Linked DNA regions of Homo sapiens. The protein of the gene in region 1 interacts with the protein of each later gene in a pairwise test. Each region holds a gene or a part of one and is shown in the gene's direction. Other genes may lie near its edges. The genes, in order: MIPOL1, RBM41, ANKRD23 and PKN1.

Region 1 (7,135 bases):
GGTGGGGGGGGGCTGGGGGAGGGATAGCATTAGGAGAAATACCTAATATTAATGACAAGTTGATGGGTGCAGCAAACCAACATGGCACATGTATACCGATGTAACCAATCTGTACGTTGTGCACATGTACCCTAGAACTTAAAGTGTATGAAAAAAGCCTATTAAAAAATGAATCATGATCCTTTAGACAGGTAGTAGCTAAAGGATCCTCATATCCTTTAAAAGGATTACTGTAGTCAAGCAAAGTGCTATGAGACTGACTTGAAAATTTAAAAAATAGCTTTATCCATCATATCTATGTTCATTAATCTCATGTCTAGCCCAGTCTAGAATGCTTCCTTGCATATGACTGCTGGAAAGCTACTCTAAGATGCTTCCCTAGCAATTCAAACTCATTCTATCAAAACTGAACTTACTTATTCACCAATTTCTTTAATACCATCAACACTTTCCTCTTTCTCAACTAGTTATTTACCAGATTTTGCAAACTATTTCCTACTTCTTCAAGCTACCCTTTTCCATCTATCGTGCTTTACCACATACATTTTATTATTTATTTATTTATTTATTTATTTTTTGAGACAGGGTCTAACTCTGTCACCCAGGCTAGAGTGCAGTGGTACAATCTCAGCTCACTGCAACCTCCACCTCCTGGTTCAAGTGATTCTCATGCTTCAGCTTCCTGAGTAGCTGGGATTACAGACATGTGCCACCATGCCTGGCTATTTTTTGTATTTTTAGTAGAGACGGTGGGGGGAGGTCCCACCATGTTGGATAGGGTGGTCTCCAACTCCTAGCCTCAAGTGATCCACCCACCTCAGCCTCCCAAAGTGCTGGGGTTACAGGCATGAGCCACAGAGCCCAGCCTTTTTATCGTTTTTCAATTAGATTAACTAGTCTTGCAAACTTGAGAATTTTGATTCTGAAACGTATTTCTAAATTGATGAATGAAAGTGTAAATCTAATCTCATCACTCCTGTTTTAACTTTCAAAATTCATTGACTATAGAATCAAGTCCAAGGTACTTAATTAGGAGATCATTTATATTGCCTGGCATGGTGACTCATGCATGTAATCCGAGCACTTTGGGAGGCCAAAGTGGGAGGACTGCTTGAGGCCAGGACTTTGATACCAGCCCCAGCAACATAGTGAGTCCCCAACTCTATTTTTAAAAAAGACCTTTCATAATCTCTCCAACTTCATTTCCCACCACTTTCCATGTTAAATTTTATACTGTGATATTAAATTGCTTATAGCTCCTTACAGTATCTCACTCCCATATTGATTCCTTTATAAGGAATTCTGTTTTCTCTGCACCTCCACCCTCACCTCTTCACCTTGCTAAGTCTTATTCATACTACAGGAGGCATTATCTCCTTCAGATTTTCCTGACTCTGTCTTCCTCATCCCCTGAACTCCCCTCTCCCAAAGCCATTTCTCAGTTTACACAGTGTGATGGTTAATTTTGTCAACTTGGCTGGGCCATGGTGCACAGATATTTGGTGAAACGTTATCCTGGATGCTTCTGTGAAGGTGTTTTTTTGATGAGATTACCATTTAAATCACCAGACTTTGAATACAACAGATTACATTCCATGTATGTCCAACTACAATTCTTTTCTGAGGCTTGCCCGCCTCTTCCCTCAGATTTTGGACTCACTAAAAGTCCACAACTGCATGAGCCATTTCCTTACAATAAATCACTGTCCCTCTCTCTATGTAGTCTCTGTGTATACACACATATCCTGTTTGTTCTGTTTCTCTGGAGAACCCTGATTAATACATATGGTATTCTCAGCTACTTGTGTGCCTAATTGTTATTCATTATTTTATTTGCAGAACTGATCAGTGTGTGACACACTGCAGAAGCCTAATATTTATAGACTTGAGAATATTAATGATCTGACATTAACAGACTTGATAATATTAATAATATGACATTCTTTTTCTCCCTGTAACGAAAGAGTGGTTCATTTTCTTCTTCTCATCTTCATCCATATTTCTGTAAAAGTCCAGCTTGTATGAGGTATGAGGACATAGACAATATCTTTGATAATCATTTTGAGAAAAGAAAAAAGCTCTAATTTATCTCTTTCATTTCTTATAGACAGGCAACTGTTAGAACAATAGAAAATGAAGAAATGGATATGTTGGTTATGGTGGTGGTGGAGGGGAGTAGGGGAAAACTTACCTGTTGTGGTATCAAAAGTTTAGGGAAAGAACATTAATGAGTTACTTCAGGTATGTTAGGGAAAAAGGAAAAAGAATAGGGAGAATTAGTCCTAATGTTTGAACTCACTGCATAAAACAGAGAGAGAGAGAGAGAAAATCAGCTTACTAAAAGGAAAGAAAATATGAGGTTTCTCTTTATGCCAGAGACTGTAAGCACCCAGATAATGGGCTTTAAAAAAAGGAGGAAATGAACTTTACTCAATGAAAAATATTATAATTTTTCTCTAAATTTATTCTACTAATTCATTACATGGTTTGAATGTTCTCATTGTGGTAGTCACTATCCTGTTTTATTTATTATTTCCTAGCCAGGAAAATCAACTTTTTCCTTTGTTTTACACATAATTTGATTTGGCCCTAAGCCTTTGCACAAGCTATATACTTCCTGATTGGAGTATTTGCTCTGATAAACTGTACACTCTTTGTTTTTGTCTCATAGATTTTTATGGTACTTTATGTTCATAAATATGATTCAAATCCTGACTGAAGTAAAGCAAAAAAGAAAAAAGCATTTCAAAGCTGAATCTGTAACAAACTTCTTGAGAACACTGTTCATTACAGCATACATAACGAAAATTTGGTGAATATTATAACCTCTGTTGTTCCAAGTTAATCTACGTCCAACTTTTCCATTTTGTTAGTTTTCACAGCGTCATGCTCTGTCCCCCAGGCTGGGGTGCAGTGGCGCCAGCCATCGTAGCTTATTTCAGTCTCCACCTCTGGGGCTCAAGCGATTCTCCCACCTCATCCTCCCTAGTAGCTGGGACTACGGGTATGCACCATCATGCCCAGCTAATTTTTTTGATTTTTAATAAAGTCAAGGTCTCGCCATGTTGTCCAGGCTGGTCTCGAACTCCTGGGCTCAAGCGATCCCACTGCCTCAGCCTTCCAAAGTGTTGGGACTACAGGCGTAAGCCACCGCGCCCGGCCTTTTTCAGTTTTTTAAACTCTCTTTTGTACACTTACTAAAGGATAAGTTCCTTTCATTAACTTTAACCACAAATTTAGGAACCCGTCAGCACCTCATATTATGCCTATTCTCTGGGGTGTATTAAAAAATATTATTGCTTATTACTCAGCACCCAGAAGAGTACCTGGCACATGGTATGTGGTCACTAAGTATTTGGTGTCTGAAGGAATCATGAGTAACAGGAGTTAAAGTGACATTTATAAAACCAATTCTGAACTATGGAACAAAAAACCCAAATTTAAATTACTAGCAGTTAATTATACCATTCTTAGTTCACGGAGGTAGGCCAATTGAAAACTTTGGACATTTTTAAATTCTGTAAGGTTTAACATTTTTTCTTAGAGGATTCACATATCGTAATCTCATCCAGCACTTCAGTCAAAAAAAAAAAAAAAAAAAAAAGTCACCAGCTCCAAGGTTTTAGTGTGAAACGTTCTTTGGCCAGGATCTAGATAGTACTTTTGCTCACTCAACCGGAGCCCGATCTGGTGCCATTTTCACTTGACCGCCGCTTCGAAACACGTCCCTCCCACCTCTCATCCCAAACCACACACAAAGAAGGAAAGCACAATTTCGACAGGTCTTGGGAAAACTCGACGAGGCCAAGTATGAGGCCACAAGACACCGTTTTTAGTTCCGCGTTCTCCCTCTTCTAATCCTATTAGGTTTTGTCCAGACAACGTTTTGCTCTTTCAGAAGAGAAAGAGCGTTCTGCGCTCGTCGTCTTGGATTCGACAACCATAAGCATCCCGTTAGGGCAACCACCGCAGCAGACTAAGTTCGACTACTTTCTCTCCAAACTCCTCCCGGGCCTTCTTCCCAAGCTCTCTCTTTCTCCTGGAGGCCCCGCCTCGCGGCCCGGCAGCGCGGCACGCGCATGCCCGGTGCTCGCCGCTTGCGCTCTCCCCTGCGGCGCGCCGCCGCCCCGTAGGCCCCACGCGCCGCCCCGCTCCTCCGCCGGATCGTCTGTGGGTGAGTCTCGAGCCAGGAGGCTCTGAGCCAGTGGCGATTGGCTGACGCGGTGGCTGCGCACTCGGCCTGAGAAACTCGGCAAGCGCGCAGTGTCGACTCCCCGGTCTATGCCAGGCGCATCTCAGGTAAACGGTTGGGCAGGGAGGTTTGGGCGACGGAGAATGATAGTGGTGGGCACAGATCAGCCCTGGAGTTTTCGGCCGCAGACTTTTCCTTGGAGAAGGAGAAGGGGCCCCGCGGAATCTGTACTTAGTGAATGCTGACCCCGCGTGGCCGGGAGTGATGGGGCTCTCTCGAAGGTCAGTGTCGTGGGGTCCTCAGGTGGCAGACAGCTCTTTCTGGGTATGGTTTTGGTATTGTCTCCAGTTTCCTAATACTGGACCTGAGCAGCTGAGCATTTATTCAAGGGTGTATTTTTTTTGTTTTTTTCCCCTTAAGTCGCGGTTAGTCAGAAGGTTCCAGTCCTCGCTCAACCTCTGATCGACTCTGTGCCCATGAGAGAGTCGTTTTATATTTCATTTCTCACACGTGGAAGTGTGGGCGAAGAATGAGGGGCTTCTTTAAGCGCGCTAAGCCATGCTGTAAAAAGATACTGTTAGAATTTTTTTTTTTCTTTTTTGATTCACAATGTCCCTGGACCTGGTGCAACGTTTGGGAAGCATTTTAAGCTCTATGGATGGAGGGAACAAGACAGCCGCATTATTAGACAAGGATGGTAGAAAGGAACAACTTTCCACAAACACACGCGTTTGGAAAAGCTCCTTTGAGCATTTTATGCAGGTTAAATCACAGTGGTAGTAGATAGAAATAAGCCAAAACAAAGGGCCAAACAAAACTACATTTCAAGGAGGTGTTCTTTTCTTCCCCAGATAACTTGAATATACTATCACAAATTATTGGCGTTTCAAAGTTTTTCCTTGTGATCTGGTATGGAGTTCATCTAAAATGACAATTACATAATCATTCTATGCAATCGTATGCCAATAAAATTAATTAAAACAGTTTAATTTTTAATGTGAGGAATAGGAATCAAGACATGTCATTGATGGGAGGTAATGATGGCAATCAGCAAAATGAATGGGAGATGTATACAATTTTCCTTCAAAGGAGTAGAGTTTATAGAGATATTTTTATTGCGTTAATATTTAAAGTATAAAGACATACAGAAAAGTGCATGAATCGTAAGTGTACAGCTCGGTGAATTTTCACAAAGTGTAAATACCCATGTATCCAGTATCTAGATCAGGAAAGAGCATTATTGCATCCCGGAAGCCCCACTTCATGGTTCCAAAGGTAATCATTATCTGGACTTCCAACATTATCAATGAATTTCACCTATTATTTACTTTATATAAATGGAGTAATATGGTATTTAGTCCTTAGTTTCTGATTTTTGCTCAATATTTTATTTGTGAGATTTATTCAAGTTATGTAGCAGTTTGTTATTCTCATGCTGTATGTATAGTATTTCTAGTTTTTGGCTATTACCAATAGGGCTGCTATAAAGATTTTTAGAAATATTTTGATGAAATTATGTATACTTTTTTTTTTCTTCTTTTTTTTGAGATGGAGTCTCGCTCTGCCGCCAAGGCTGGAGTGCAGTGGCGCGATCTCGGCTTACTGCAACCTCCGCCTCCCGGGATCAAGCAATTCTCCTGTCTCAGCCTCCCGAGTAGCTGGGACTACAGGTGCCTACCACCACGCCTGGCTAAGTTTTGTATTTTTAGTAAAGACGGGGTTTCACCTTGTTGGTCAGGCTGGTCTCAAACTCCTGACCTCAGCTGATCCACCTGCCTCAGCATCCCAGAGTGCTGGGATTACAGGTGTGAACCATCGCGCCTGGCCATATGTACATTTTTATTGCGTATATGCCTACTAGAAAATTACTGTGTTACAGGATAGGCAGATGTGTGTTTGTGGTATACACTACTGAAAAGTTTTTCATATTGTGTCAATTTATACTTCAGTGGCAGCTTGAGAATTCTGGTTCCTCCAAATGCTTGCAACATTTCACACTGTCTTTTTCATTTTAGCCATTCTAGTAGGAATATAGTGACATAACATTGGGGTTTTCCCATAATTTCCCTAATGACTGATGGTATTGAACACATATTCATGTGTTTACTGGCATTTGGATATCCTCTATTTCTGTAAGGGACCAGACAATAAGTGTAGGCAGCCCTCGCTTTGTAGAGTTTCAGCTAACCAAGTAATGTGTGAAGCTCGGACTACCTGTATTTTAGGTTGTACAGGCTGTACAGTCTCTGTTACACATTCTTTTCTGTTTTTTTCCTCTTTACTTTGTTCCCAACCCTTTAAATATGTAAAAACAATTCTTAGCTCATGGGTTATACAAAAACAGTTGTTAAAAGATAACTTTAGGCACATGGAAATTTTAGAGTTTATATGAGCATTCAGCAATTTCATAAATTGGGTATCACCAGACCACAAGTTATTCAAGACTCCACCAAGAGGGTGTGAGGGGAAAACTTTTATAAGGTGTTTATGGAAACAGAAAATATTTGATTGGTAACAGTGGAATGTCTCTAGTTAGAAGTTGTTTGGTGGTTTCTGATTGATTAAACTCAAGTTTAGTTTTACTGTTTACATTGAGTTGGGTTTTGGTTTGTTTACATAGGAACCCAAAGTGCTGGAGCTGTCTCAACCTAATGGTTTCCCAGTTAGTTTTTTTTTTTTTTTTTTTTTTTAACACAGTCCTCTGGCTGGATTTGAGTTGTGGGCCATAGCGTACTAACCCCTGCTCTATTGAAAAATGTTTGTTCAATTTTTTGCCAATTGGTTGGATGTGAAATCAGTAACTGAGATGGGCTATATTAGAGAAATATAGATCCATAATACTATATCTATCTATGTGTGTGTGTGTGTGTGTGTGTGTGTGTGTGTGTGTGTGTGTGTGTGTATTTTTTTTTTTTTTTTTTTTGAGACAAGGTGTACCTCTGT
Region 2 (7,020 bases), on another chromosome or scaffold:
CTAGTTCCATCCACATTGCTCTGAATAACAGGATTTCAATATTTTTATGGCTGAATAGTATTCCACTGTGTATATATACCACATCGTTGGGCACCTAGGTTAACTTCATATCTTGGCTGTTGTGAATAGTGCTGCAATAAATATGAGAATGCCATTGTCTTTTCAATATACTGATTTCCTTTCCTTTGGATAAATTCTCAGTAGTGGGATTGCTGGATCGTATGGTAGTTCTATTTGTAGTTTGTTGAGGAACCTCCGTACTGTTTCCCATAGTGGCTGTAAAAGTTTACAGTCCCACCAACAGTCTGTAATAATTTGCTTTTCTCCACATCCTCACCAGCATTTGTTAACTTTTGTCTTTCCAGTAGTAGCCATCCTAACTGGAATGAGATGATGCCTCATTGTGGTTTTGATTTGCATTTTCCTGATGATTAGTGATGTTGAGTATTTTTTCATATATTTGTTGGCAATTTGTATGTCTTCTTTAGAGAAATAGCTGTTTAGATCATTTGCCCATTTTTAAATCAGGTTGTTTGTTTTGATGCTGTTAAGATGTTGAATTCCTTGTATAGTCTGGATATTAATCCCCTGTTGGGTGAGTAGTTTGCAAATATTTTCTCCCATTCTGTAGTTCGTCTTTTCACTCTGTTGTTTCCTTTGATGTGCAGAAGATTTTAGTTTAATATAATCCCGTTTGTTTATTTTTGCTTTCGTTGCCTGTGCTTTTGAGGTCTTATTCATGAAATCTTTTCCCAGACCAGTGTCCTGAAATGTTTCCCCTATGTTTTTTCCTAGTAGTTTTTTAGTTTCCGGTCTTACGTTTAGGTCTTTGATCTGTTTTGAGTTGATTTTTGTATAGGATGAGAGATGGGGGTCTGGTTTCATTCTTCATGCATATAGGTATCCAGTTTTCTCAGCACCACTTATTGACGAGACTGTCTTTTCCCAACTGATGTTCTTGGTGTCTTTATTAAAATATTAGTTGGCTGTAGATACATGGGTCAGTTTCTGAGTTCCCTATTCTGTTCCACAGTTACATGTGTCTCTTTTTATGTCAGTACCATGCTGTTTTGGTTACTACAGTTTTGTAGTACATTTTGAAGTCTGGTAGTGCAGTTCCTCCAGCTTTGTTATTTTTGTTCAGGATTGCTGTGGCTTCAGAGTCTTTTGTGGTTTCATAAAAATTTTAAGATTTTTTTTCTTTTTCTATGAAGAGTGTCATTGGTATTTTGATAGGGATTGCATTAATTCTGTAGGTTGCTTTGGATAGTATGGTCATTTTAACAATGTTCTTTCAGTCCATGAGCATGGAATATCTTTCTGTTTGTATCCTCTAAACTTTTCTTTCATCAGTGTTTTGTAGTTTTTCTTGTAGAGGCCTTTTACCTCCTTGGTTAATTTATTTCTAGGTATTTTATTTTGCTTTTTGTAGCTATTGTAAATGAGATTGCTTTCTTGATTTCTTTTTCAGCTAGTTTGCTGTTCGTGTGTAGAAACGCTACTGATTTTTGTGTGTTGATTTTGTATCCTGCAACTGTATGGAATTTGTGTATCTGTTCTAAGGGCTTTTTGGTAGACTCTTTCAGGTTTTTTTTTAGGTTTTTCTCTATATAAGATCATGTTGTCTGCAAACAGGGACAATTTGACTTCCTCCTTTTTGCTTTGGATGCCTTTTATGTCTTTCCTTTGTCTAATTGCTCTGGCTAAGACTTTCACTACTGTGTTGAATAAGAGTGGTGAGAGTGAGCATTGTTGTCTTTTGCCAGTTCTTAGAGGAAAAGCTTTCAGCTTTTCCCCATTCTACTGATGTCTAATTTTTTGTTGTTGTTGAGTCTTTAGCGTTTTCTACATGGATGATCATTTCAACTGTGAACAGAGATAATTTTACTTCTTTCTTTCTGATTTGGATGCATTTTATTTCTGTTTCTTGCCTATTTGCTATGGCTAGAACTTCCAGTACTATGTTGAATAGAAGTGAGAGTAGGTATCCATGCCTTGTTCCTGATCTTAGAGGAAAAGCTTTCAGTTTTTTAATACTGAATATTATAGCTGTGGACTTTACATATATGGCCTTTATTATGTTGAGGTAAATTCCTTCTATTAGTAGTTGAGTGTCTTCATCATGAAACAGTGTTGAATTTTGTCAAATGCTTTGTCTGCAACTGTTGAGATAATCATGTAATTTTTATATTTTGTTCTGTTAATGTGTTGTATTACATTGATCAATTTTTGTATGTTGAATCATCCTTGCATCCCAGGGATAAATCTCCCTTAGTCAAGGTGTATGAGCTTTTTAATGTGCTGTTGAATTTGGTTTGGTAATATTTTGTTGAGGATTTTTACATCTGTTTATTAAGGATATTGGTCTGTATTTTTCTTATAATGTTTTTGTCTAGGTTGGTCTCAGGGTAATCCTGGCCTCATAGAATAGCTAGCATATAGTTGGATTTTGTTTATCCATTCAGGTACTCTGTCTCTTGGGGAGTTTATTAATATTTAATGTAATTATTGCTAGCAAAGGACTTACTATTGCCATTTGTTAATTGTTTTCTGTCTCTGTTGTAGCTCTTTTGTCTCTCCCTCTCTGCCGTCTTCCTTTGTGGTTCATTGGGTTTTTTTTTTTTTTTGTAGTGATATACTTTGATATCTTTCCCATTTTTCTCTGTTTATCTTTTATAGGTATAGGGCATGGTAAAACAATCTGTTTTAAGCTGATAACATCTTACGTTCAATCACATATAAGAGCTCATTTTTGTTCTGTTGAATTTTTTTTTTTTTTTGAGACAGGGTCTCACTCTGTTGCCCAGGCTGGAGTGTGGTGGTGTAGTGTGATCATAGTTCACTACAGCCTCAAACTCCTGAGCTCCAGTAATCCTCCTGCCTCAGCCTCCCAAATAGCTGGGACTTGTAAAATTGGCCAGTTGTGGTGGTGCATGCTGTTTGCTCACAAGTAGCACATGCCACCCTGTCTCTTTTGCAGAGACAGGGTCTCACTGTGTTGCCCAGACTGATCTCAAACTCCTGGACTCAAGCGATCCTCTCATCTCAGCCTCCCAAAGCACTGGGATTACAGGAGTGAGCCACCGCACCTACCCTCCCGTGCCGCCTAATAGGTAGAATAATTTCTCTTATTTTCCTGAGGATATTAGTTATGGTTTGTTGAAGTTTTTTCCTATTTCCTTTCTTTTCTTTATGTTTGTTGTGTTCTCTCTTTCACATTAGAGGAGTTCCTAAGATGCCTGATAATCCATGCCCAACTTTATAAGTAGGAACTAAAAAGCAGATTGGAATCTCTGAGCACACAAATGGCACTTGTTGACTTTGAGCTTCACTTTAAAGTGGTCTGGCTGGGTCATTTGTTAGAGAAATTCCTCATCCCAAGTCAGTATTTTTATATCTTTCCTCCTAGGACTTACCAGTTTTCCCAGAGAAGACTTCCAAAATCTTTCTTACGAGGGTACTACCAGCGTTCTAGGAGCCAAATGGCAGAAAAGGACTGGGAGGACCTCAACATTTAGTATTCTCTTAGTTTCCTTGCTTTCAGAAACAGTGTTCACATCTTCAGCCATGTATGGCATTCCCCATCTTCTGACAATGAGCCTCAAGTTTTCTACCAGGATTGGCAAGTTATCTTTTACCCCATAGCATATTGTGAGGGAGGGTATTTAAAAATCATATTGGCTTTTAGACAGCCTTCAACTGATTTGCCTTATTTTAACCCCATCCCTTCACATTTATTTCTGAAGGTAAGTGAAATTATCAGTTCCTGAACTATTTAAGGATTCTTAAGTGGTGACAGGTGTGTTCTTGGCTCTCTCCACTACCAGTTTAAAATTCAGCTTTCTTCAGTGTGCTGAGTTGGTTCCTGCTCATCCAATTATTTTTCATCTTCCAGATTATTATTGCTGTTGTCTCCTTTTCTTGTTCCTCCTGACCTTGTTGATTTGTGTTTTTTTTTTTTTTTTTTTAAGTGCCTATAGTTTTAGAGAGTTTTCTGGATGGAATGAAATTAAATGAATGTGTTCAATCCACCATTTTTATGTGAAACTAATTCTAATCATAATGAAAGAGTTTTCTTACGGCTGAGCATGGTGTCTCACGCCTGTAATCCCAGCATTTTGGGAGGCCAAGGCGGGTGGATCACCTGAGTTTGGGAGTTCAAGACCAGCCTGGACAACATGGTGAAACCCCACGTCTACTAAAAATACAAAAATTAGCCAGGTGTGGTGGCACATGACTGTAATCCCAGCTACTCGGGAGGCTGAGGCATGAGAATCACTTGAGCCTGGGAGGCCAAGGTTGCAGTGAGCAGAGATTGCGCCACTGCACTCCAGCCTGGGTGACAGAGTGAGACTTTGTCTCAAAAAGAAAAAAACAAAGAGTGCCTTACCTCCTTTATATGATATTTTGGTTGATCCTCAATTTGTTTTAGGTATTATACCTGAAGAACCTTAGCCCTCGGGTGACTGAAAGAGATCTTGTGTCATTGTTCGCTCGGTTCCAGGAGAAAAAAGGACCTCCAATTCAATTCCGAATGATGACTGGACGAATGAGGGGCCAGGCTTTTATCACCTTTCCCAGTAAGTAGTTTCATCCAGATGATTACTCAGTTGCCCCTCAGTTCGCTAGAGATTACCTATAACCTCTCTAATTTAGATATAGTCCTTTGATTTCTCCACAGCATGTGAGAACAAGACAATGAACGAAAAATATGTTTTCAGTGTTTCTTTCTGTTTCCTCTCCTCCATTGACAGTGCATGGCCACACTACCCCAGTGTCCTCAGTTTTTCCCAGTCTTGGTACTTCCTTCTTACCCTACCAAAATCTGTACTCCCTTCACTGACAATAGTATTTCTAGTCCAAGTTATAATTAGATTACTCATTAATTAATGTATTAGTATTCTGATCAGAACACATGTACTTGGCTTATGCGCTGTTCCTTTAGGACTAAGTGAGAGCAAGCTAATATACTAATTTATTACTAATTCATAATTAGTAGATGATGATACAGTCTTCTAAATATTATTTGCATATTAATTAATGCATAGCTTCTAATCCAACTGGAAGAATAATATGCAAATTTCAGTTTCTATGACAGACCAGATAATATGTTGTTTTGGGGGAAGGCTTTGTAGGATCTGTACCTTTCATTGTCCCTAAAGTATCGTCATTTCTAAATAGCCTATTAATCTATATGTGGGCAAGTGGTTTTACACATGAATACTGCCAAACTCCCCTCCATTGTTTTCATACAGTCTTGTATCATCTTTCCTATCATACTGAAGGTTTTTAAATCCGCTATACCAGTGGTTTTCAGTCTTTTCAAGTGTAAGAACCCCTTTTAAATTTAAAAAACCGTTTATGGGTGCCCCACATAATACGATGTATTAGTTGAAAAAATACATAATAAAAAGGCTTTTTAAAGCAAGTACTTTAAAATGTGTAGCTGTTTTACTAATCTTGAAAGCTATACACTTAAAAAAATTTGTAGTACTTATATATATGAAACAAAATTGGTTTAGTCTACTTGTCTACTTAGGATTCCACAAACTCCTGGCCACAAATCATCCCTTCCTTATTTCTTACATCCAGGCTCTTAGACCCATAAGTTGAATACTCCTGGCATGTAGTATATATTCTCACATTTCAACCTTCAATATGCCTACAAGTGTTCTTATACTTATTTATCCCAATAAGGTGGCCCAGAACCACTCTCCCACTGAAAAAAAAGTGGCAAAGTGCCCTTGATAACATGATAACTTCTTTTGTGTTACTCATTTTGAAAATGATTGATTCTAATAATACCTATAATCTGTTACCTAAGATAGAGACTTGTGTATAATTACTAATAGCTTAGACTTCTTTAGCACGCTGCCTATGTCTTTGTTTCTCTACTTGTTTCTTTGAATTAGGAGACACCCTCAAACACCGATTTTGAGTTTTTATTGTTATTATTTTTGCCATTAATTTAATTTTGCTTAATAATGCAAATGGGAGATTATAGAAAAAATGATCAAATCAAATGACTATATGGCCTTATAGCTTACATTTAACTCCAAGGCAAAATAATCTAAACTAAACCTGGAATAGAATTGAATTATTAAGTCCTATGTAAATTGAAATTTTTTCTTTCTCTTTTAGATAAGGAGATAGCATGGCAAGCATTGCATCTAGTAAATGGATACAAACTACATGGGAAAATATTGGTGATAGAGTTTGGAAAGAACAAAAAGCAACGGTCAAATCTCCAAGCGACTTCTCTCATATCATGTGCTACAGGTAGCACTACAGAAATTAGTGGTAGCTAGAATATATATAAATTGTGGGTCCTGGATGGTCTTTCTTGAATTGGAATCTTGGATCTAGGATTTATGTATAGACACCAGTTTGTTTGGAGTTGAAGAGGAAAAACTAACTGAGGGAGGGGAAAAAAGTAATTTCAGCTTTTGGAGAGAACTGGTAGAAAACATTTTCTATTATATAATTGAAGACTATATAGGACAGATGATATGCTGAGTATGAAGGGTAAAGTGCAAAGAGTATTATTTTCTCAGGATGAATTACAACGGATTATTCCTAAGGATTTTTAAAAATCTTTATAATTTTTCTGGGGTCCTCAATATTTGTCTCTAGAGATAACATTCTTTCTTAGACTGCTTCGTATACACAGAAATAAAAAACTAATTAAATGTTGAAATATTTCTTTACTAGAGCCCATTTGCCATATTTCATCCACCTAGTAAATAAAAGAGTAGGACCCCCAGGCCTAAGCATCAACAAATGCTATTAAGTCAGAACTATCAGCAGTAATAGTAGGTAGTTTCATAAGTCAGTTGACTTATTTAATGAATGCTTCCTCCACAAGTTATCAGTCTTCAAAAAGCTATATATTTTTCTAGTGAAATATTTTAGATCAAAATGTTGGTGTTCTCACAGCCATTTAAGCTAGCAACCATTGAGTATCATTGAATTCATAGCAATAAACATTGATTAAGTGTCTAATATATGTTAAATATTAGG
Region 3 (7,680 bases), on another chromosome or scaffold:
ACTTGGCTAATTTTTGTATTTTTAGTAGAGATGGGGTTTCACCATGTCAGGCTGGTCTTGAACTCTTGACCTTGTGATCCGCCTGCCTTGGCCTCCCAAAGTGCTGAGATTACAGGCGTGAGCCACTGCGCCCAGAGAGGCCTCTTTTTTAGAAGGAAGAACCACTGAAAGTGGAACAAGAGAGAGCAGAGCCCAGTGGGGGGGTATGCCCTTTGATTCCAGCCTTTCTCTCCACAGGCTGCTGAGAGGGGTCACGGGGACATCTGCTCCCTCCTCCTGCAACACAGCCCAGCCCTGAAGGCCATCCGGGACCGAAAGGCACGGCTAGCATGTGACCTGCTGCCTTGCAACAGTGACCTGCGGGACCTGCTATCCAGCTGAGCCGCCACCCTATCTCCAGCTGCCTTTAAAGGGTACACAGACCAGTTCTCCAAGCCCCTGCCTTGGTCAGCATCCATGCTGCTGGGCAGGGAACTGAGGCCAGACCACCCAGGAAGAGCCCCAGTCTGGTCACTGTGGAAGCGAGGGAGTAGATTTGGTGTGGCTAAAAGTGTTTAAGACTGGACAGATGATCATATTCTAAATTAGTTCATATGAGACATCTATTTATTTGGAAAAAAATAAAGTTATATCCTTACCTCATCCCACACCCAAAGATAAATTGCAAGATTAAAGATCTAAATATAAAAACACAAAACTATGTAAGTATTAGAAGAAAGTAGGGACTATGTGAGAAGCTGCTTTCTAGCTGAATGCCCTTGGTAAAAGTCACTTTAGCTGTCTGCCCCTCCATTTCCTCTTCTGTAATGAGAGTGGTTATCATAGGGCCCGCCTCAGAGTCATTGTGGGAGGAGGTCAGTGTGCACTGGGAGAGCCCTCGAGAGAGTGCCTGGCACGTGGCAAGCAGCCTGAGGGAGGCCCGCTTCCCGAGCTCCTCATCAGCACTTTGCGCATACCATGATTTCATTGATTGCAACGGTCCGATGGGAGAAAAGTGCTGTTTCATCTGTTTCGTTTTTCATTGCTGGTTACTAGTGAGGTTGAGCACCTGTGTCTTCTGTGAGCTGCCTACCCATGCCGATTTTAGAAACACTTCTTATTGATTCATAGGAGTGTTGATATTCTAGATCCTGATCCTTTGTTCTATATATGTACATTTAATTTTTTCCCTTTTTTTCTTTTATGCTCTTTCTTTTATTCTTTCTTTTTTTTTTTTTTTTTTTTGAGACGCAGTCTCGCTCTGTCACCCAGGCTGGAGTGCAATGACGTGATCTCGGCTCACTGCAAGCTCCGCCTCCCAGGTTCACGCCATTCTCCTGCCTCAGCCTCCCGAGTAGCTGGGACTACAGGCACCCACCACCAGGCCCGGCTAATTTTTTGTATTTTTAGTAGAGACGGTGTTTCTCCGTGTTAGCCAGGATGGTCTCAATCTCCTGACCTCGTGATCCACCCGCCTCGGCCTCCCAAAGTGCTGTCTTTGTTTCTTGATATCCATTCATGGGAATTGGTACAGCTACTGTAGATGGCAGTTTGACAGTATCTATTTAAATTTAAATGAGCAGAACCAATAATTTGATTTCTCTGTAGCTATGTAGAGAGATGTTCTTCCATGGTTACAAAGATGTTTATTTACAGGAGCATTTACAAATATGTGCATTGGAGCATGGGGAGTAATGTTAAAAAAAAAGAGAGAACCGACTCCTCCCTGATAGGGAGTGGTTGAGTTCTGCAGATCCAAGTTCTCGGCTGCACAGCAGAGCGCAGCGTGCTGACAGGATATTGCTGCTCGTGTCCACAGTGGGACCCCCTTCACACAGAACATGCCTGTAGAATGTGATTGCCTCTCAGCCTTTTGGCTAAGATCATGTATAAATGTATGGATCTATACGTGGATGTAGGCCAGGAGCAGTGGCTCACGCCTGTAAGCCCAGCACTTTGGGAGGCCGAGGTGGGAGGATCACCTAAGGTCAGGAGTTCGAGACCATCCTGGCTAACACAGTAAAACCCTGTCTCTACTAAAAATACAAAAATTAGCCGTATGTGGTGGCAGGTGCCTCTAATCCCAGCTACTCTGGAGGCTGAGGCAGGGGAATCGCTTGAACCCGGGAGGTGGAGGTTGCAGTGAGCCGAGATCGCGCCATTGCATTCCAGCCTGGGCAACAGAGTGAGACCCTGTCTCAAAAGAAAAGAAAAACGTGGATGTGCATCCACAAAATGCACAGAGCAGAAGCAGGAGGGTGGCTGTTAAACTGCCAGCCATGGTTTCTCCTGGGCCACGTGGCAAGAGAGGTAGTCAAGGAGGTCCTGAGCCTTCTGTTTATGTTTGAACTTTTAATAAGGAATCTTTTTTCCTTTCTTGCTCAACACACTGTTTCTGGCTTGATTTTTTTTTTTAAGTCAGAGTTAATACCAGTCATATGAGACAACTAATGGGTTTTCTATTGAGAACTTCCCTGAAGCCTGGGGGTGCAAAACGCCGCTCCTCCAGTGCCACGTGCTGAGGGGTGTTTGTGAGTTGGAGTGGACAGTGGTGGCCAGTCTTACTTTTTCTTGTTTCTTTGCACTCATTTTATTTTTTTTTTTTTTGAGACCGAGTCCCGCTCTGTCATCGGGCTGGAGTGCAGTGGTGCGATTTTGGCTCACCACAACCTCTACCTCCAGGGATCAAGTGATTCTTGTGCCTCAGCCTCCCAAGTAGCTGGGACTACAGGTGCCTGGCTAATTTTTATATTTTTAGTAGAGACGGGGTTTCACCATGTTGGCCAGGCTGGTCTCGAACTCTTGACCTCAGGTGATCTGCCCACCTCAGCCTCCCAAAGTACTGGGATTACAGGTGTGAGCCACCACGCCCGGCCCCTTTGCCCTCATTTTAGATGACTCTTTCCCTCCTCATAACCAAAAGCAAGGAACAGGCTGGGTGTCACCTGAGGTCAGGAGTTTGAGACCAGCTTGACCAACATGGAGAAGCCCCATCTCTACTAAAAATACAAAATTAGCCAGGGTGATGGCACGTGCCTGTAACCCCAGCTACTCGGGAGGCTGAGGCAGGAGAATCACTTGAACCGGGGAGGTGGAGGTTGCGGTGAGCCAAGATCGCGCCATTGCACTCCAGCCTGGGCACCAAGAGTGAAACTCCATCTCAAAAAGAAAAAAAAAAAAAAAAGCAAGGAACACCTTTGTCTGAAAAAAGCACCCTAAATTTAGCCTAAGAACTAAGTTTTCAGCTGGGCGCGATAGCACAAGCCTGTAATCCCAGCACTCTGGGAGGCTGAGGCGGGTGAATCACAAGGTCAGGAGTTCAGGACCAGCCTGGCCAACATGGTGAAACACCGTCTCTACTAAAAATATAAAAAATTAGCTGGGCATAGTGGCAGGTGCCTGTAATCCCAGCTACTCGGGAGGCTGAGGCAGGAGAATTGCTTGAACCCGGGAGGTGGAGGTTGCAGTGAGCTGAGATCGCGCCACTGCACTCTAGCCCAGGCCACAGAGCGAGATTCCGTCTCAAAAAATTAAAAAAAAAAAGAAAACTTTTTTTTTTTTTTTTTTTTAGACGGAGTCTCACTGTTGCCGGGCCAAGAACTGAGTTTTCTAAGAAAGCTCTGCCTTTTCCTGAGTTCTCTGAAAATGTGGAAGCCCTTCCAAGAGGCCAGTTCTTTGGGAGCTGGGGAGCCATCTGGGGCCTGTGGCCATCCTTGGCCACAGTTCTCCCTCCTTGTACCCTGGTCATGTCTTCTCAGGTTGCTCCGATTTTGGGGTCTTATTTACTGGCTGATTTCCTTGCAAAGGCCAAGGCGGAGTTCAAGGTTCAGCTGGGTGAAGGGCATGCCTGGCTTCCTGAGAATTAGGAAGGGTGACTGATGGCTTGAGACACATTGCTCTGCGGCTGGATTTCATGGTTACTATTCCATCCCGGGACCTGACGCGGATCAGTCTCCCCTTTCCTGTGGCTGGAGGGGCACACTCCGTCCCTGGAGAGCGTCTGGTAGGGGCTTGTAGAGGGGCGGGGAGGACTTCCAGAGGCCCGAGGACAGGCGCCAGGCTTGGCTTCGGGGCTGGGGCAGCTGCCATGTGCTCTCAGAGCACTGAGGGAGGAGCGGGGGAGCCCGGGGGCGAGAAACCCACAGCACAGGGAAGGGAAGGGCAGCCTTGAAACTGCAAGTTGGGAGATCACGGTTTCCTCACGTGGCCACCATGAGGGCTGAGGCTGTAGGCTGGCCGCTCCTGCCCCTCCCGACCACCCCCTCAGGCTTCCAGCCTCCTTGCTCAGCCACCTAGGCTGGGCTTTCAGGTTCACAGGCAGCCGGCCCTACAACATGGAGGCCCAGGCTGGGCTTTCTTCAGGAGTGGCATCTAAACTTAGGAGAGGGGAACACGTTTCACCCGAATCTGGGCTAGCAGTGTGTTGGTTAAATGGCCCCTGAGTAGGTGTGGGGCATGGCAGAGGTGCAGGAGTGGGTGTCCGAGGATGCAGCCAACTCATCTCCAAACAGCTCCTTTTCTTTTCCCCAGTGGGCTGCATTCCCAGACTGGTATTTTAGTTGGTGTGACAGAGTCCCAGAGTCATCTGGCCCAGGGGCTTGCACCTGCGCCAGTCCTTCCCTGTCCACCCCTGCCCGTCTCCAGGCGCTCCTATAAAGGGCTGAGCAGTTCAGCTCTTCTCACTGGGGGGTGTGAGGAACAGGGGGGACCATGGACTTCATCAGCATTCAGCAGTTGGTAAGGATGTGGGACGGAGGTGGGAGGCACCCTGGGACCGGCTTGATAGGAGGAGGCTGGCTAGAGAGGGCTGGCAGCTTCTTTCTGTGGTGTGAGGGTCAAGTCTTAGGTGCAGGGAAGCATGCAGTTCTTTTATAAAAATCTGTATTTTTTGAAACGGAGTCTTGCTGTGTTGCCCAGCCTGGCCTTGAAGTCCCACGCTCAAGTGATCCTCCCACCTGGGCCTCCCAAGTAGCTGGGACTCCAGGCGTGTACCCCCACACCCGGCTGAGCGTGCGGTTCTTTCTGGTGTGTCTGCTCGGTTCTCATGTGAGGTGGTGAGGGGGTTAGGGAGCAAGAGAGGGAAGTCGAATGGGAAAGAAGACATGAAAATCCTTGAGTTCAGTGAGTTTTGCCCTGGATAGTGATGGTGAAAGAGGAACAGGAAATGGCAGGTTACTTTGGAAGATGCAAGTGTGGCTGTGGTGGTTGTAGTTCAGCTTAAGCACCATGATAGTTGTTGCTCTGGAAATGGCCAGAGGTCCTGGCTGCCTTGGGGATAGGGAAGGGTGCTCTTTCGCTCCCTGGGCAGTGAGGGAAACAGTGACTCTTAGGGATGTCGGTTTGAGTGACGAGGGGCCTGGAGGGTGTGAGGCCCAGCAAGCCCATCTGTGGGCTGCTGGCCCCAGCCTGGTGCAGCCTCTGGCGGGAGGCAAATGGCAGGGAGGTGTTAGGTTGCTAGAGTTCTTTAGAAGGAATATGGTTCTACCTGACTAGAAAGTCCTAGGATCTGTTACCCTATCATTCCACCCTGTTCTTTCCCCACAACAGGCTGATTCCTCAGTGCTCCCCAGCTCCTGAACTCCTGAGGTGGGGCCCGGTGGGAGGAAGCATGGGTGTTTGCTACGGAGGCTTTGCCCCAGGCACAGGTCCCAATAACTCATAACCTTCACAACTCCTTTAGGCAATTGCCTTAAGTGTTTGAGCTTAAATGTAGCTTCAAAAGGAGCCGAGAACTGAACCCAGGCATTTAGAATTTTACCCCGGGGGGACTTCTCTGTCCCTCTGAGCTTGGAGTCAGGTGGCAGTCAGTATGATCTGGTAGGAATCTTAACAACATGGGGGAAGCTAAGGTGTCATCTGCCCTGAGGCTACCTGGGCAAATGCCCAGCAGTATAAATAGGTTGTGGCCTCATGTCCCCCCAGCTGTGTTCCTGCTGACAGGAGCAGGGTAGGCGGGGATCCGTTGTCCCCCTGGGTGTCAGCTGATGACACAGTTGCGGAGCCTGCAGCACCCACAGGGTGAGGGAGCTTGCCAGCACTCTGGACTGCAGGAGCTTTGAGGCCGGCTCCCATCCCGGGCACCAGCCTTGTGACATCTGCCCTTATAAGACAGCTCCCTGCTACTCCACAGCTCTGTTTTCTAAGGGTTCCTCCAATTTTCCCAACTCAGTACTCATATCCTGTTCCTACAGGTAAGTGGAGAAAGAGTTGAAGGGAAAGTGTTGGGATTTGGACATGGAGTTCCTGACCCTGGAGCCTGGCCTAGTGACTGGAGGAGGGGCCCCCAAGAGGCTGTGGCCCGGGAGAAGCTGAAATTGGAAGAAGAGAAGAAGAAGAAAGTGAGAGAGGGGCGGGGGCCGGGGTTGGGGGCAGTGGCTAATCCCTGAGGCCGGCTGAGCAGTGAGGCCTGGAGGGACTCTGGTGGGGCAGCCTGAGCAGCTGGTGTCTCCTGTCGGCAGGGCAGAGAGATCTCTTGACCAGCGGCTGATGGCTGGCATGGTCTTGTCTTCTGCCCCAGCTTGAAAGATTTAACAGTACCAGATTTAATCTGGATAACCTGGCTGACTTGGAAAACTTGGTTCAAAGACGGAAAAAGCGACTGAGACACAGAGTCCCCCCCAGGAAACCTGAGCCCCTGGTTAAGGTGAGTGGGAGGTCGGGGTTAGGGCAGTGCACACACCAGGGCTCCAGTTCCAGAGGAAGGGCTTGGGGCAGAGTGGGCACTGCAGGCCAGGACCACACAGCCAGTGCCTGGGGAGCCCATTAAATCCACTCCAGAGCCCCCGCGGATGTGTCCGCCAGGGCTGCCATAACAAAGTCCCACAGCCTGGACAGCCTCAACAGCAGGCATGTGTCACCTCGCTGTCCTGGGGGCTGGAAGGCTAACAGGAAGGTGTTGGCGAGGCTGGTTCCCTCTGAGGGTGGTGAGGGAGAATCCCTTCATGCCTCTCCGGCTTCTGGTGGATGCTGGTGATCTTTGGCGTTCCTTGGCTTGTAGATGTATCACCCAACTATTGCCTTCATGTTTGCTGGGCGTTCTGCCTGTGTGCATGCCTGTGTCCATGTGTCTCCCCCAACTTTTTTTTTTTTTTTTTTTTTTTTTTTGAGACGGAGTCTCGCTCTGTTGCCCAGGCTGGAGAGCAGTGGCACGATCTCGGATTACTGCAAGCTCTGCCTCCCGGGTTCATGCCATTCTCCTGCCTCAGCCTCCCGAGTAGCTGGGACCACAGGCACCCGCCACCACGCCCGGCTAATTTTTTTTTGTATTTTTAGTAGAGATGGGGTTTCACCGTGTTAGCCAGGATGGTCTCAATCTCCTGTCCTTGTGGTCTGCCCGCCTCAGCCTCCCAAAGTGCTGGGATTACAGGCATGAGCCACCGCATCCGGCCCACGTGTCCCCTTTCATAAGGACATCAGTCACATTGGATTAGAGCCCACTTTAACACAAGTCATATTGGTGAGGGGCCCACCATACGCCGGTGTGACCTCATCTTAACTAATTACATCCTCAGTGACTCTGTTTCCAAATAAGGTCACATTCTGAGGTACCTGGGGTTAGTACTTCATACGAATCTTGGGGAGATACAAGTCAATCCATAACACACACGCTCACACACACACAGTCTATTCAATCTCCTGGCGTGGGATTAGAATAAGAAACTGCATTAGTACGAGCCAGCAGTGTTCCTTGGTGGGCTGCAT
Region 4 (7,952 bases), on another chromosome or scaffold:
GCAATGGTGCAATCTTGGCTTGCTGCAACCTCCACCTCCCGGATTCAAGCGATTCTCCTGCCTTAGCCTCCTGAGTAGCTGGGACTACAGGCACTCACCACCACACCCAGCTAATTTTTTTTGTATTTTTAGTACAGATGGGGTTTCACCATGTTGGCCAGGCTGGTCTCAAACTCCTGATCTCAGGTGATCCACCCACCTCGGCCTCCCAAAGTGCTGGGATTACAGGCTTGAGCCACCACACCTGGCCACGTCTCCCCTTTTAGCAAACAAAGTGTGGCTGGACGTGGTGGCTCATAACTGTAATCCCAGCAGTTTGGGAGGCCGAGGCGGGAGGATCACTTGAGGCCAGGAGTTCAAGACCATCCTGGGCAACACAGTGAGACTTCATCTCTGCAAAAAAAAAAAAAAAAAAAAAAAAAAAAGAATTAGCTGGGCATGGTAGTGCATGCCTGCAGTCCCAGCTACTCAAGGGGCTGAGGTGGGAGGATGACTTGAACCTGGGAGGTTGAGGCTGCGCTGCAGTGAGCTGTGATCTCACCCACTGCACTCTAGCCTGGGTGACAGAATGAGACTTTGTCTCCAAAAAAAAAAAAAAGGCCTGAACTGCAACTTTATCTCCAGTGCCACCAAATTCCCCAGTGGGTCTCTGTAAATATTCACTGAGTAAATGAATGCCTGAAGGGTGGAGCGAGAATTTGGCTGGTTTCCCCAGCTCCATCTGGGGAGGCAGCCTGGGACCTCACAGGTTGGGGAGGGAGGGCCCATCCCTGTGCAAGGTGGTTCCAGACAACCCAATCCTTCGGCCCCCATGAAACCTCACTCTGCCTTGTCCTCCTCATCTGTAGAATGGGTGGGCTGGAGAATTAGAGGGAGCTACTTCGTTTCTCAGGGAAAGGGCCATAGACATCCTGGCTTGATGATTGGGGTAAGGGACTTCTCAGCTTACTCACCTGCAAAACTGGAGCAAAAGAACTAGTTTGGGCCAAGCTTGATGGCTCATGCCTGTAATCCCAGCATTTCAGGAGGCCAATGCAGAAGAATTGCTTGAGCCCAGGAGTTCAAGACCAGATTGGGCAATATTACGAGATCCAGTATCTACACACACACAAAAAAATTTTTTGAAAAAACTAGCCAGACATGGTGGTGCACACCTGTGGTCCCAGCTACCTGGGAGGCTGAGGCAGGAGGATCGTTTAAACCTGCAAGGTGGAAGCTGCAGTGAGCTGCGATGGCGCCACTGCACCCCAGCCTGAGTGACAGAGTGAGACCCTGTCTCTAAATAAATAAATATCAGGCTGGGCGCGGTGGCTCACACCTGTAATCCCAGCACTCTGGGAGGCCAAGGTGGGCAGATCACCTGAGGTCAGGAGTTCGAGACCAGCCTGCCCAATGTAGAGAAACCCCATGTCTGCTAAAAATACAAAATTAGCCGGGTGTGGTGGTACATGCCTGTAATTCCAGCTACTCAGGAGGCTAAGGCTGGGAATTGCTTGAATCAGGGAGGCAGAGGTTGCGTTCAGTTGAGATCGTGCCATCACACTTCAGCCTGGGCAACGAGAGCGAAATTCTGTCTAAACAAACAAACAAACAAATAAATAAATAAATATGAAAGAACTAGCTTGCAGAGTTTTTTTTTGTTTTTTTTTTTTTTTTTTTTTTGAGAGGGAGTCTCGCTCTGTCCCCCAGGCTGGAGTCTCGCTCTGTCCCCCAGGCTGGAGTGCAGTGGCGTGATCTCAGCTCACTGCAACCTCTGCCTCCCAGGTTTACGCCATTCTCCTGCCTCAGCCTCCCGAGTAGCTGGGACTACAGGCGCCCGCCACCACGCCCGGCTAATTTTTTGTATTTTTAGTAGAGATGGGGTTTCATCGTGTTAGACAGGATGGTCTCGATCTCCTGACCTCGTGATCTGCTCGTCTGGGCCTCCCAAAGTGCTGGGGTGACAGGCGTGAGCCACCATGCCTGGCCATGAGTTCTTTTCTTTTCTCTTTTCTTTTTCTCCCTTCCCCTCCCTCCCTTCCTTCCTCTCTCTCTCTCTCTCTCTCTCTCTCTCTCTTTCTTTCTTTCTGACAGTCTTGCTCTATCACCCAGGGGGGTGTGCAGGGGTGCGATCTTGGCTCACTGCAACCTCCGCCTCCCAGGTTCAAACCATTCTCCTGCCTCAGTCTCTCAAGTAGCTGAATATACAGATGCCCGCCAGCACACCTGGCTAATTTTTTAATTTTTAGTAGAGATGGGGTTTCACCATGTTGGCCAGGCTGGTCTCGAATTCCTGGCCTCAAGTGATTCACCCCCCTTGACCTCCTAAATTGCTGGGATTACAGGTGGGAGCCACTGCGCCCAGCCACAGAGTTCTTTCTTTTATTCAATCAACAAGCATTTGAGAAACAGTTAGAAGGCTCATGTGGCTGGAAGGAGTGAGCAAGGGGGAGAGATGGGAGGAAGTAAGAACTGATGGTGCAGAGCTTCGTGGGCTGTGGGGAGGACCTGAGTTTTTTCCCTGAGTGAGCTGGGAGCCATGGAGGGTTCTAGACAGAGGAGGGGCATACCCCATCTCATGTGTTCACTGCTCCCTTGGGCTGTTGTGGGAACAGACTGTGGGGGCGAGGGCAAAACCAGGAGACCAGGAGAGAGGTGACTACTGGTTAAGGTGAGTGATGGTAGGGACTGGATGCGACAAAGTGGAAAGGTGAAATGTGGGTGAATTCTGGGCTTGTGTGTGTGTTGTTGTTGTTTTCTTTCTCTTTTTTTTTTTTTTTTTGAGAGGGAGTCTCGCTCTGTCGCCCAGGCTGGAGTGCAGTGGCGCGATCTCGGCACACTGCAAGCTCCGCCTCCTGGGTTCATGCCATTCTCCTGCCTCAGCCTCCCTAGTAGCTGGGACTACAGGCGCCCGCCGCTTTCACCATGTTAGCCAGGATGGTCTCAATCTCCTGACCTCGTGATCCGCCTGCCTCTGCTTCCCAAAGTGCTGGGATTACAGGCGTGAGCCACCACACCTGGCCCCCTCTTTTTTCTTTTTTTAGATGGAATCTTGCTCTGTCGCTCAGGCTGGAGTGCAATGGCACGATCTCGGCTCACTGCAATCTCCGCCTCTTGGGTTCAAGCTATTCTCCTGCCTCAGCCACCCGAGTAGCTGGGATTACAGGCATGCGCCACCACGTTCAGCTAATTTTATATTTTTTAGCAGAGATGGGTTTCACCATATTGGCTAGGCTGGTCTCGAACTCCTGACCTCCAGTGATCCATCCACCACCCACCTTGGCTTCCTAAAGGGCTGGGATTACAGGGGTGAGCCACTGCACCCAGCCGTTTTTTTTTTTCTTTCTTTTTTTAGACAGGGTCTCGCTCTGTCACCCAGGCTGGAGTGCAGGGGCATCATGATTTCTCCCCACAGTGATGCATTCTCGGCCTCTTGAGCTCAAGCGATCCTCCCGCCTCAGCCTCCTGGTAGCTGGGACTACAGGCGTGCGCCACCATGCCCGGCTGGATGGGTTCTGGATCAGCATAATTCTCCTCCTTCTCTCTTTCTGTTGTTAGTATCTCCCAAAGAGTTGCTCAGAGGAAAAAATAAGAGAGAAAACATCGCGCCCTGGTTTCTGGGACGACTGAAACCACGCAGAGCCACGGGTAACCAAGGTACCCGCAGCCCACGGCGCTTCCTCGGGTCCCAAAGGGCGCCAATGTGCAGGCACCGCCGCCAGGGAGCGCTCCCTGCCGGAGCCCCGGAGACCAAGGTTTGGCTCCCTCGCCTGGTTTCCGAAGGAGTGAGGGTCCGACGGCGGCCACGAACAAAGCTGCACGCTCTGCAGACCCCGGAGATCCCCTAGAAATTCCGCAGAGGCCTCCACTCTCCGCTTGGGCACGAGTCTGCATTTATGGAGCGCCATCTGCATGCAGCAGCCCCGAAAAAGAAGGCGATGCCCATTTTATAGCGGGGAAAACTGAGACTCAGAGGCCACAGGGGTCCCCAGGATGAACAGCAAGTTGGGATTCAAACCTCTTTTAATAACAATAACGATAATAGAGGCTGGGCGCGGTGGCTCAGGCCTGTGTAATCTCAGCACTTTAGGAGACCGAGGCGGGCGGATCACCTGAGATCAGGAGTTCGAGGCCAGCCTGGCCAATATGATGAAACCCCGTCTCTACTAAAAATACAAAAATTAGCCGGGTATGGTGGTGGGCACCTGTAATCCCAGCTACTCAGGAGGCTGAGGCAGAAGAATCACTTGAATCCGGGAGGCGGAGGTTGCAGTGAGCCGAGATCGCGCCACTGCACTCCAGCATGGGCAACAGAGCGAAACTCCGTCCAAAAATAGCAAAACAACAAACAAACAATTACGATAACATTAAAAGTGACAGCAGCTAACACTTATGGAGCGTCTAGTGTGTTCTCAGCTCTTGGCCTGCACTGTCTTATTGAATTTTACCAACACCGAGGAGGTGAGCGCATCATTCCCATTTCACAGATGAGGTGCCTGGAAGGGTTTGTCTCCCTCAAGGCGTAAAGCGCTAGGATTTGAATGCAGATCCGCCCAGAGCTTGTCTCCAGGTAACGGGGAAACTTCCATGCCCTTGAATAGGGGACCACAGATGCAGGCGTCCCGAGCTTGCAAATGCACCGGGGTAGGGTGGGGTGGGGGGTTATTCTGTTTGTTTTTTTCAGGGGTCCCGGGAGGCCCAAAGGCCTCCGCCGCTCTCGGCTTGAACGCGTGGAACCGTTCTCCTCGGGTTCCCGCGCGCTCCAATGGGGGACCCCTCGGCAGCGTGCGGTCGTCTCGGGACCCGGAAAGAGGAAAGGTGGGGAGCCGATGGGGATGCTCCGGGCTCGGGAGACCGAGGGGGCGGACGGGCGGGACCCCGCAGCCCCGGGGGCCTCTGGGAACCCGTCCCCCCTCGGCCCCGCCCCCTCCCCGGGCGCCGACCTCCGGGGTCACGTGACCAGGCCCGGCGGCCGCTGGGGCCGGAGGGCGCGGCGCGGGGACGCGGCGGCCTGGCCAGGCGAGGCGGGAGCCGAGCAGGCCGGAGCGGGCCGCGCGCCGGGGAGGGTCGCGCCGCGCCCGCCCCCTCCCCGCCACGCCCGGGGCGCACGCGCGCTCCTCTGGCCGCCCCTCCCTCCGCGCGGGGACCCCTGGCGGGCGGCAGGAGGACATGGCCAGCGACGCCGTGCAGGTAGGCGCACCTGCGTCTGGAGTCCCGGGGCGACCGGACGGCGCCGGCGGACCCCGCCCGCGCGCTGCCGGGGGAGCCCCCCCAGCCCCCGGAACGGGACTCGGGTGACGATGGCAAGGGCGGGGGCCTCCGGAGCGCCCGGCGCCCCCTCCCTGGGCCGGGACTGTGGAGCCAGCGAGGCCCCCTTCTCGGCAGGTGGCGATGTGGACTGGGCTGGTTTGGGGGCGATCCCGGAGGCAACCCCTGCTACACCCTCAAACTCGGCCTCTCCTGGAGAACTAGAAGGGGCGCGGCGGAGGCTCTACTTCGGGTGTCTGTGGCTGGCTGGGCGTCCCAGTGCCTCTCGTCCGCCCCCAAACTCATCCCCCTCCCCAGGGTTGGGTACCCGGCAGGTGCCGCTCCACCTGGGGCACGTGCCTGGCGCAGTGCCCTGGGAGGGGAGGAGGCTGCTGGGCCCGGCCCGTGCCCTTCCCCCGCATAACAAAGCTCCAGCCACCCCCGCCTCTAGACAGCTTTATGATGTTCCAGACGCCACCCAGATTGGCACCTGTTGGCGGAAGTACCCGAGTCACTGCATTAGGTCGGGGGAATGGGGACCCCCACTCCCACCCTTGGGCTGTCAGGTGGAACCTTCTCCTGGGTGGGGAGTGTCTCAGTCAACAGGCCAGGGATGCTCCCATATATAGAATCCTACTTTTTTGCATGGTGGCTGGGCATGGCTGGGTCACCCCCACCCTGCTAACACACACACGTGACTGGCACCAGCCTCCCGCCCAGCCAGATTCCCCTTGTGCCACCTGGTGGGGATCACTGACCTGGACTCATCTTCCCCGTCTGTGACAAGCACGGCCAGGGTGACTGCCAACCTTCTTTGGTTCAAGTGACCCAAATCTGAGAAATGTCTGTGCCTCAGTGTCCCCATTAGCACCTCACCATCCAGTTCATTGTCCTGTGGTTGTTGTGTAACTGGGTTCTCGTCTCCTTCTGCACCTGCCCCCGGCCCCTTTGTGTCTCCCCGGTAACCCCCGGTCCCTCCCGCCTTCCCAGTCCTGCTGATGGCCTGCCGGCCTTGCCGAGGAGCTGGGCGTATCTGGTGTTGCCGATCACACAAGGTCAGACCTCAAGGCCGGGATGGGCCGGGGTCCCTGCCTCTACCCCCGGCCCAGGGAGGGCTGTGTAGGAATCCCCGGGTGCATGCATGCGCTTGGCGCATCCCACACATGACCCAGACAGGCTGTGATTCCTGCAACGAGGCTGGACCCACGCCCTGGTCCCCCCTTCCCATCTCCTCCCCAGTCTCTTCCCCGCTCCTGGTCATCCCTCTCTCATGGTTGCTTGGGCCTGCTGCCCTGTCCCTCTGTCTGTCCCAACGTGTGCCTGTCTGTTCTGTGTCCTGCAAACGGATGTCCTGTCCAGATTCCGGAAACGCCCAAGGCATTGAAATCTCCGGATGTGGGAGTCTAGGTCCCTGGCTGCTCTGGCAAGATGGGGATTATGGGAGGCAGGTCCTCTGGGTCTGAGGTCTCCGCTCCATGGTGGGCAGCGGAGGAGCAGGGGTTCTCCATAGGACAGGCCAGGCCAGGGCCCTGAGTCCTGGGTTTGCCTTGCTGGCCCTCAGGTGACCCCTGTGCCTTGGGTAGAAGTGAGTCACTCAGGGGAGGAGAACCCAGGAGCCCAGCCTCCCTCCCTCTGTGCATTACAGACCTCAGCTGCTGGAGGTGGGGCTGAGGGAGGCCACCTCTCCTCTCTGCCTGGACTTCCCCAGTTGAGCTGGCCCCGCTCTTGGCTGTGTCCTCCCTCTGCCTGCTGGGGATGGGGTGGGGCCTTCTGAGCGAGGGTGGTATTTGGTGAGCCTGGGCTTAAATTCCAGCGCTGACACTTCCTCGCTGTGTGTCCTGGGCCCAGTGCCTTCGCCTCTCTGAGCCTCGGTTCTGACCTAGGAAAAATGGGACTAAGAGGGTGTTCATGGGAGAGAGAGAGACCGAGACCTTGCCAGCACTTGGCAGGCAGGGCTGCTGTGAAGTCGTTACTGGTAAGCGTCCTGGTCAGCAGCTCAGGGTGTGAATCTGTGTCCTTATTGATTGATTTACTGATTTATATTTATTTATTTTAGAGGAGAGAGTCTTGCTCTGTCACCCAGGCTGGAGTACAGTGGTGCGATCCTATGTCACCGCAGCCTCGATTTCCAATTTCCGGGGCTCAAGTGATCTTCCTGCCTCAGCCTCCCAAGTAGCTGGGACAAAAGGCACAGACCAACATGCCTGGCTAATTTCCTTTTACTTTTGTAGAGACAGGGTCTCGCTCTGTTACCCAGGCTGGAATGCAGTGACGAGATTCTTGTTCACTGCAGCCTCAAACACCTGATCTACAGGACTACAGGCATGCACCACCACACCTGGCTAATTTTTTTTTCTTTATTTTTTTAAATTGAGACTGGGGTCTCACTCTGTCACCCAGGCTGGAGTGCAGCGGCATGATCTCTGCCTCCTAGACTCAAGCCGTTCTCCCACCCCAGCCTCCTGAGTAGCTGGGACTACAGGTGCACACCACCACGCCTGGCTAATTTTTGTATTTTTAGTAGAGTCAGGGTTTCGCCATGTTGCCCAGGCTGGTCTTGAAATCTTGAGCTCAAAGTAACCTGCCCGCCTAGGCCTCCCAAAGTGCTGGGATTACAGGTGTGAGCCACTGCCCCCAGCCTTTCTTTTTTTCTTTTCCTTTTTTTTTTGTGATGGAGTCTCGCTCTGTCGCCTAGGCTAGAGTGCAGTGGCTTGATCTCGGCTTAC

Evidence for each region.
Region 2: the proteins of MIPOL1 (region 1) and RBM41 interact in binary tests that used the Homo sapiens proteins (3 or more experiments, as listed by UniProt).
Region 3: the proteins of MIPOL1 (region 1) and ANKRD23 interact in binary tests that used the Homo sapiens proteins (3 or more experiments, as listed by UniProt).
Region 4: the proteins of MIPOL1 (region 1) and PKN1 interact in binary tests that used the Homo sapiens proteins (3 or more experiments, as listed by UniProt).

What each region holds. Positions count from the first base shown.
Region 1 is NC_000014.9:37,193,806-37,200,940, forward strand, and holds the start of MIPOL1 (mirror-image polydactyly gene 1 protein), read left to right. Parts: upstream 1-4,131; 5' UTR 4,132-4,299; intron 4,300-7,135.
Region 2 is NC_000023.11:107,066,815-107,073,834, reverse strand, and holds part of RBM41 (RNA-binding protein 41), read left to right. Parts: intron 1-3,409; coding exon of another isoform or gene 3,410-3,645; exon of another isoform or gene 3,646-4,432; coding exon 4,433-4,580; intron 4,581-6,141; coding exon 6,142-6,308; 3' UTR 6,309-7,019; coding exon of another isoform or gene 7,020-7,020. UniProt on the Homo sapiens protein: May bind RNA.
Region 3 is NC_000002.12:96,841,002-96,848,681, reverse strand, and holds the start of ANKRD23 (ankyrin repeat domain-containing protein 23), read left to right. Parts: upstream 1-4,660; 5' UTR 4,661-4,689; coding exon 4,690-4,716; intron 4,717-6,170; coding exon 6,171-6,317; intron 6,318-6,496; coding exon 6,497-6,622; intron 6,623-7,680. Other genes in the region: ANKRD39 (ankyrin repeat domain-containing protein 39), read left to right, coding at 238-381. UniProt on the Homo sapiens protein: May be involved in the energy metabolism. Could be a molecular link between myofibrillar stretch-induced signaling pathways and muscle gene expression.
Region 4 is NC_000019.10:14,428,374-14,436,325, forward strand, and holds the start of PKN1 (serine/threonine-protein kinase N1), read left to right. Parts: upstream 1-4,932; 5' UTR 4,933-5,148; coding exon 5,149-5,169; intron 5,170-7,952. UniProt on the Homo sapiens protein: PKC-related serine/threonine-protein kinase involved in various processes such as regulation of the intermediate filaments of the actin cytoskeleton, cell migration, tumor cell invasion and transcription regulation.